Regions from separate parts of the Homo sapiens genome. Here regions 2 and 3 are each linked to region 1. Evidence: fine-mapped expression QTL. A gene starts in region 1. Each other region holds a variant in brackets. All regions are shown on one strand. Distances are between the middles of the regions. Region 1 holds the start of NBDY (negative regulator of P-body association). Region 2 holds the start of SPIN2B (spindlin family member 2B). Region 3 has its middle 25 kb from the start of FAAH2.

Evidence for each region. PIP is the estimated chance that this variant, and not a neighbour inherited with it, causes the effect.
Region 2: its variant is fine-mapped to the expression of NBDY in whole blood (TOPMed, PIP above 0.99).
Region 3: its variant is fine-mapped to the expression of NBDY in whole blood (TOPMed, PIP above 0.99).

What each region holds. Positions count from the first base shown.
Region 1 is chrX:56,728,162-56,730,931 of GRCh38, forward strand. NBDY (negative regulator of P-body association) reads left to right here and starts at 1,082. Exons shown (of 3, transcript NM_001348129.2): 1 at 1,082-1,428. The coding sequence starts at 1,193. The coding sequence ends at 1,399. RefSeq lists an enhancer at 1,123-1,202.
Region 2 is chrX:57,121,177-57,123,946 of GRCh38, forward strand. SPIN2B (spindlin family member 2B) reads right to left here and starts at 372. Exons shown (of 2, transcript NM_001006681.2): 1 at 62-372. It also overlaps a transcript of FAAH2 not described here. RefSeq lists a silencer at 540-659. The variant G/A (reference allele first, on the strand shown) is at 1,126.
Region 3 is chrX:57,260,012-57,262,781 of GRCh38, forward strand. It overlaps a transcript of FAAH2 not described here. Among named protein-coding and RNA genes, the nearest start is that of FAAH2, 25 kb to the right of the region's middle. The variant G/A (reference allele first, on the strand shown) is at 1,474.

The sequences.
Region 1 (2,770 bases):
TTACTTGGAGGAAGGTAGAAGGGTGGAGATAAGAGATAGTTATAGTAGTAAATGCTTTACATGTATTATCCCTGGTTATGGAAACACCTTTGCAAGGAAAAAATTATGGCCTAGAAACCAAAGTTCCAAGAATTTAAATAATTACTCAAAGAGCTCAGAGCTTGTAAACAGCAGAGTTTAACAGGCACTTCTACTCTGGCATTAAGGACTAAGCTCTCTCCATTTAAAAAAACAAAAAACAAACAAAAAGCACTGAGAACAAAGCTGAAGAAGTGTGATCTAGTTTGTCCATAGCTAAAGGGAGATGGATGTGTAGGCTATTTTAATAATGAAGGTCTAAGAAGTTCCAGAAGCCTTTTCTTCTGAGACACGTGGTACTTTCTTCTGGTTACCATAAATCATAGAATATAACATATCATCACTAGTAAGATGGGTCATTATTTTCCATACCTACAAGAAAGAAAAAAAAAAGCTGCCAACTAAAGTATAGTGTACCATCAATTGTTAGGTCGCAGAGATTTCCTAGATATTCAAATTTGGGGAAAAACATAATAAGCCTTCAAAAATTACAAATTTGCTTAAAAAATAAAGAAAAAATGATCTTAGATTCTATGACATACGGTGAATTCATTTTCCACATTCAATTTCCATGGTTTGTGCTAGTGTGCTATTCTGCACTCTAGTCAACTTACATGTTTGCATATTGCTTTTTAAATGTTTGTAGCTAGTTTCACAGCTCTGTGATGTGCATCTGCAGCTGGCTTGTAAAGCTCTTCAATAATTTATTTGGTTACCGCCCACCCCCGCGTCCCTCCCACACATATAAGCCATTCAGAGTTTACCACTTAAAGGTAAACTTGAATTTCTTCTCATCTTAAAATTGCATAAATTATATTAAATTCTCAATAAATTTATTTACATTTAGTGGGGGTGGGGCGCGATGGAAAAACACTATATTAAATAACGACATCGGTTTTTAACACCCATCCTAATAGAAACATTAAAATAGAATGGGGTAGGGAGGAGGGGTGGAGGCGGAGAAGGGATGTACGTCTCAGGATACAGGAAATACGGTAAGAGCGAAACAGGAGGAAGCCAGCTCTGTGCCTGGAGGGGACTCGCCGCCATCTCAGGTCTCTTGGCTTTGCCAGGGCCCACCGGAGAAAACTGACGACCCGTTTCTGTAATCCTTATGGGAGACCAACCTTGTGCCTCCGGGAGATCCACTCTCCCACCTGGAAACGCACGGGAAGCCAAGCCTCCAAAAAAGCGCTGCCTCCTCGCTCCGCGTTGGGATTATCCGGAAGGAACTCCCAACGGAGGTAGTACCACTCTACCCTCCGCACCTCCTCCTGCATCAGCCGGCCTGAAGTCGCACCCTCCTCCTCCGGAGAAGTAGAGAAATAAATTTCTCCCACCCTAAACCAGGTCAGATTCTTTCTCATCTAGGACATCTAGGCTCTTTGAAACTTATTTATGCATTCTCACAAATTTCCTTCCCCTTTTCCCTGTTCTTTCCATGATTTCAAAATAGAAAAAATAACATGCAGGGATTAAGCAGCTCTTTCACAAAATATGCTTGAATGAAATGATGGATATTTAACGACATTAAATAATTATTTGTAATATTTTAGATGAAATAATTGTAGTTATATTTTCTAAGAAATAGACTTGAATCTTTTGATTTGCTTGAAAGTAAGTCATTGGTGCCAAGGTGGAGGGAAAGTGTAATAAAAATGCTCATGAGTTGATAATTTAAAGCTGGGTGATGTATATGTAGGGATTTATTATATTATTCTCTCTACTTTTGCGTGCATTGGAAAATTTTTTTGTTAAAAAAAAAAAGGCTGGTTCAAGGCCAATAAAAAGCATCTGTTGAAGGCCAGCCTTCAGAAGTGTATGTCTTTCTCTGTGTAAGGCAGGAGAGTTGAATTTTTTTTTTTAAAGCTACAATGTGATAGTCAAATCCAAGTGCCATAATGTTTGCTTGTTCAAGGTATTCAGGAAGGGTGGAGGATGGACCAAGTCACTGCCTGGTAGTAATCATGAGCCATCAAAAAGGAGGAGTAGGGGGGCGGACGCGGTGGCTCACGCCTATTATCCTAGCACTTTGGGATGCCGAGGTGAGCAGATCAGGTCAGGAGTTCGAGACCAGCGTGGCCAACACGGTGAAACCCCGTCTCTACTAAAGTTACAAAAATTAGCCAGGCGTGATGGTGGACGCCTGTAATCTCAGCAACTCGGGAGGCTAAGGCAGGACAATCATTTGAACCTGGAAGGCAGAGGTTGCAGTGAGCCGAGATCGCGCCATTGCTCTCCAGCCTGGGCGACAATAGCAAAAAACTACGTCTCAAAAAAAAAAAAAAAAAAAAAAAAAAAAAAAAAGGAAGGAGGAACTTTGGGTGGGCCTTAAAGGTTGAGTGACATCTGCCATGTGGAGGGGCAGGGAATGCTTTTCAGGCCGAGGGTTTCCAGAGAAAAGGCAGAATTCTTCTGGAAACAGCTTGGCTATAATTTTGAATCTACAAGAAGGACTAGGAGGTGAAGATAAAGTGCTTCAGGGCCTTAAATGTTATGCTGAGCATATACTTCATTCCAATATCCATCAAGTGCTACTATTTGTATTTTAAGATTCCTATTCTTACTATCAGAAAAGGAATCTCTGATATTTAGATGAACTTTATAGAATGCAAATTATAAAACTGAATCTGACCCAAGTTTTATAGATCCTTTTAATTCAAAGGAGAGAAGCATCTTTTCTTCATTCGTG
Region 2 (2,770 bases), 390 kb after region 1:
TGTCTCCTGCTGGATTCCTTCCCATCCCCCTCTCCATTCTGGCGCCCACTAATGGCCTTGCCCTGCCTGGCGTCCACCGCCGGGGATCGCGGGCCTCACGTGCCCAAATCGGACACCTCGCTGCTGCCTCCGCTACGAGCCTGTGGCGAAGGAGGGTCAGCAGGCGACCGGCCGAGTGAATGCTTGCAAGAGCGGGGAGGGTAGGATCCGTAGATGAGGAGCGTGTCTAGGAGGGCGGCGAGACAGGCAAAGAGGAAGGCAGCGGCGTCCCCACCGCTTGGCTCGCTAGCCCTCCGCCTCCCTGCTGGCGGTGGCGGCCCCTCAGCCACATCGGGATTCCACCAGTCCCTGCTGTCGCCGCGGCAGTCTCCTCCCTCTTTCCGTAGCGCAGCTTCCTGCCCAGAGAGAGGCCTCCTCTTCCTGTCAAACACCCGGCTCTCCTCTCCACCAGGCTCCCACGCCCACCACACAGCCTGTAGCCCCGGCGGAGCTATGGGCTCTGACTCCGCCTCTTTCCAAATCCGGAGTAGTTCGTGCCACAGTCGTCCTCGGAACCCTGTGGCCCCTTCCTCACCCGTTTCAGGGCCACTTGGTTCCCACCTCCACCTTCTTAGTCTGCCTGCCCTGCTTTCCATCTTCTTGGAATTCGCCTTGCTGCCGCCCCGCGCCCACCCCCGCGCCCACCCCTGCCCCTGCACCGTCCCATGCCCTTATGGATTTATTCTTTACACGTAAATATGTCTTTCCTCTTTTTGAAAGGATTTGGAGTTGGAACAGAGAAATTCACTATGGTAAGTCTGCCATTTTGACCCAGTCTCTACCTAATTTTTGCTGACTGATATTTCCTGGCATTTTTGTTTTTGTTTTCGAGGGATTTTTTTTTCCTTTTCTTTATTGCAAGATAATTGCATGTACAACGTGAACACTATCTACATTTTAGGAAATTAATATTAAGAGGAAAATCATCAACTGCAGTCCCATCTCCCATTTTTGAGGGCCTCACAGCAAAATATTAATGCTCATAGTTTTTTTTCCTTTTTCCTAAACTTTTGCAAAACTGGGATTTGTTTTTTATCTGCAATTCATGTCTATTAATTTTTCCAGGAAATTAGATGTTTTCTAATC[G/A]ATTTTTTCATTCAACAAATATTTATTGAGCACCTGTTACATATCTTGCACTTGGTCCGTAAAACTCAATTTTAAAGTGATTTATAATTTGGCTTTTCTCCCAGTACTGGGCATTTGACATAATATTTCCACAATAACCAGTAATCAGATCTATGTATCGGAATAGAAAGCTTTGCAAAAAAATAACTTTATAAGAAATAATTAAAGTTATAGTTTTATAAATCAGTGGAGAAACGTTGGGTATTCTTTAAGGAATGTTGAAATAATTATTTAAATATTTTGAGAAAGGTTGTATACTAATGTTGTACCAGTATCAATATTTGATTTATTAAAAGGTAAAAAGCAGCAAAATAAAATTGAACAGAAAGCAAATGAACCAACCAAAAACTCTGTAAACAAAACAATGCTTAATGGTATCTTTCTTATTCAGATACTTATGGTATTTGAATGAGGGGATGAGTCGGATGTTAACAGAACAACTACACTTAATAAAATAACATCTACAAGGAAAAATAGAAGTAATAATAATCTCGATTCAACAGTCAAAGTATGAAAGAACATTAAAATATTACTTAATGTCATTGATCATGAAAAAGCTTCATATCTAGTGCTGATGCAAGTGAAAGTTTATACAATTTTTATGGAAAGCAATTTGCAGATATGTCATAGTTTCAGTGAGGGCTTTTTATTTTATTTTCATTTTTATTTTTTTAAATTATATTTTAAGTTCTAGGGTACATGTGCACAATGTGCAGGTTAGTTACATGTGTATACGTGTGCCATGTTGGTGTGCTGCACCCATTAACTCCTCATTTACATTAGGTATATCTCCTAATGCTATCCCTCTCCCCTACCCCCACCTCACAAGAGGCCCCATTGTGTGATGTTCCCCTTCCTGTGTCCATGTGTTCTCATTGTTCAATTCCCACCTATGAGTGAGAACATGCGGTGTTTGGTTTTTTGTCCTTGCGATAGTTTGCTGAGAATGATGGTTTCCAGCTTCATCCATGTCCCTACAAAGGACACGGACTCATCATTTTTTATGGCTGCATAGTATTCCATGGTGTATATGTGCCACATTTTCTTAATCCAGTCTATCATTGTTGGACATTTGGGTTGGTTCCAAGTCTTTGCTATTTTGAATAGTGCCGCAATAAACGTATGTGTGCATGTGTCTTTATAGCAGCATGACTTATAATCCTTTGGGTATATACCCAGTAATGGGATGGCTCGGTCAAATGGTATTTCTAATTCTAGAACCCTGAGGAATCGCCACGCTGACTTCCACAATGGTTCAACTAGTTTACAGTCCCACCAACAGTGTAAAAGTGTTCCTATTTCTCTACATCCTCTCCAGCACCTGTTGTTTCCTTACTTTTTAATGATCGCCATTCTAACAGGTGTGAGATGGTATCTCATTGTGGTTTTGATTTGCATTTCTCTGATGGCCAGTGATGAAGAGCATTTATTCATGTGTCTGTTGGCTGCATAAATGTCTTCTTTTGAGAAGTGTCTGTTCATATCCTTTGCCCACTTTTTGATGGGGTTGTTTGTTTTTTTCTTGTAAATTTGTTTGAGTTCATTGTAGATTCTGGATATTAGCCCTTTGTCAGGTGAGTAGATTGCAAAAACTTTCTCCCATTCT
Region 3 (2,770 bases), 530 kb after region 1:
TATTTGCAGAGTAAACACATGAATAATATAAATATATGTAGTGTAATATAACTTCAAACAATCATTGATATGTTTAAGGATTTTCCTAGCATTTTTTACTTTAAAAACCCTTCAAAATAATTTTGAAAGAAGAAAACGCAGTTGAAAAACTATTACCTTATGTCAAGACCTATTATAAAGCCATAGTAATCAATACAGCAGAGTATCCTTGTAATGAAAGACATTCAGATGAATGAAACAGAAAATAGAGTTCAGAAATAGACCCATGCATATAAGGGCAAATGCTTTTTCACCAAGGTACCAAGACAATTTAATTTAAATGGTAATATTTTCAACAAAATGTGCCAAAATAATTGCATTAAAAATGAATCTTGATCCTAAACATACATCAGCTACAAAACTTAACTTGAACTGAGTTATTGAGCTAAAAACTATCAAAAGTGTAGAAGAAACGATAGTAAAATTTTTTGGGATCTTAGGTTTGGCAAAGATTTCTTAAACAGAACAAAATTAAGCACAAATTATAAAACAAAAGATCAATATATTGGAGTTCATCAAAATTAAATGATTTGCTCTTGAAAACACAGTGATGTAAATGAGAAAATGGCAAAACATGTATTTAGCAAAATACTTCATATCAAGAATCTACAAAAAATCTTAGAAGTCAGTAATAATAAGTCAAGAATTAGAAATGAGTGAAAAATTTAAACAAACACTAGGGATCAAAGGATATGTGTGTGTGTGTGTGTATATATATATGAATGGTAAATAAGTGTATAAAATATGTTTAGTATCATTAGTCATCAGAAAAGTGCAAATTAAAATTTTAATATGATAATATATCACACTCACAAGGCGGCTAAAAAGTAAAAAATGACAACCACAAGTGTTGGTGAGAATGTAGTGCAACTAGAAATTTCATACACTGCTGTTGGGAATATAAATTGCTAAAACAGTTTTAAAACTATTTTAGTAGCTATGTACAAAATTAAACATACATCTACCATAAAACCCAATCTTCTAGATGTTTTTCTAAAATATAATAAAGCTTTTGTTTATACAAAGACTTGTATTAAATAATTATAAAATTACACTTGTAATTATAAAAACGTGAAGCCACACAAATGTCCATCAACAGAGAAATAATCAATAAATTTTCGTAGACCCATGCAGTGGGATTCTAATGAGCAATTAAAGGGCACATATTATAGATACATTAAACAACATGGATAAATCTAAAAAACAATTTTGTGGAGTGAAAAAATCTATATTTGGCCAGATCTGTAATCCCAGCTCTTTGTTAGGGCAAGGCGGGTGGATCATCTGAGGTCAGGAGTTTGAGAACAGCCTGGCCATCATGGTGAAACCCTGTCTCTACTAAAAATACAAAAATTAGCTGGGCATGGTGGTGCGTTCCTGTAATCCCAGCTACTCAGGAGTCTGAGGCAGGAGAACCACTTGAACCCAGGAGGC[G/A]GAGGTTGCAGTGAGCAGAGACTGTGCCATTGCACTCTAGCCTGGGCAACAGAGCGAGACTCTGTCTCAAAAAAAAAAAAAAAAAAAAAAAGAAAAAAATAAGAAAAAATCTATATTTATACAGAATTCCAGAAAATCAAAACGAATATAAAGTGAAACAAATCAGATTAATTGTTGCCAGGGATGGGAGGTGGAATATACGGAACATGAAAAAAATTGTGGGTGGTTATGAATATATTTGTTATCTTGATGTGTTTACCTTAAAGTAAATCACTCTGAGTTCAATGTGAAAGATAAGTTTAAAGGTAATGAGTTAGGAAGCAGGAATATTAGTTATGAGATTAATTCATAATTAAGATGAGAAATAACAAAGGCTTAACTAAGGCATTGCTGGTGATGTTGCAAGAAAGAAATTAGAATAAAATATGGAAATTAGGAAACATCAATTTCATTAAATGAGTATATGTGGATGCTGAAAGAGAAGAATTAAGTATGACATCTGTATTTATTGTTTACGTGACTTGGTGTCATCAACTGAGTCAAATAATATAGGATATGACATTTTAACTTATTGGAAATGGAATATATATATATATACTTTTCTTTACTCCTGCTACTAAATGCAACTAAAAATCTCAGGCATTGTATCTAAAACAAACATAAAAAGACTCCTAAAGGTGAAGAGAAGGTGGCAGACCAGCTCGGACTCTCAGGACCTGAGTAATGACACATTGGTGAGTATACTGGTGTGTTGTTTTGCCTCATATATTCTAACTTGGAACTGAATAAACTGAAAACTCAGATATGTGCTTCAAAACACACTTGAAATAAATGAAACTATAAAATTTCTCTGCAAAGATAGGGAAGATAATTATATCAATAATTGTATTATTAGATTAATTGTTATAAGTGAGAGAAGGTAAAGACATTCACCCAATATAAAATAAATTATTTGAATAACCCTATAATTTAAGAGTTAATTATATTCATGAATTAAAAATTGTTCCCCAAGGAAATCTCCAAACTCAGATAGTGTCAATGGAGAATTATACCAAAGGTTTAAAAAAGAAATAACACCAAATTCAAGTCTCTTTCAGAAAATGGAAGAGAACACTTTCTAACTAATTGTATGAAGGTAGTATTACTCTGATAACAAATCTAAATAAAGATAGTCTAATGAGGAAATCTCAGACTAATAGCTCTAATTAATTTGGATTTAAAACTTCTAACACAATATTAGTAAATACAATTTAGCAATATATTAAAATAATTATACACTATGACCAAGTGGGGTTTA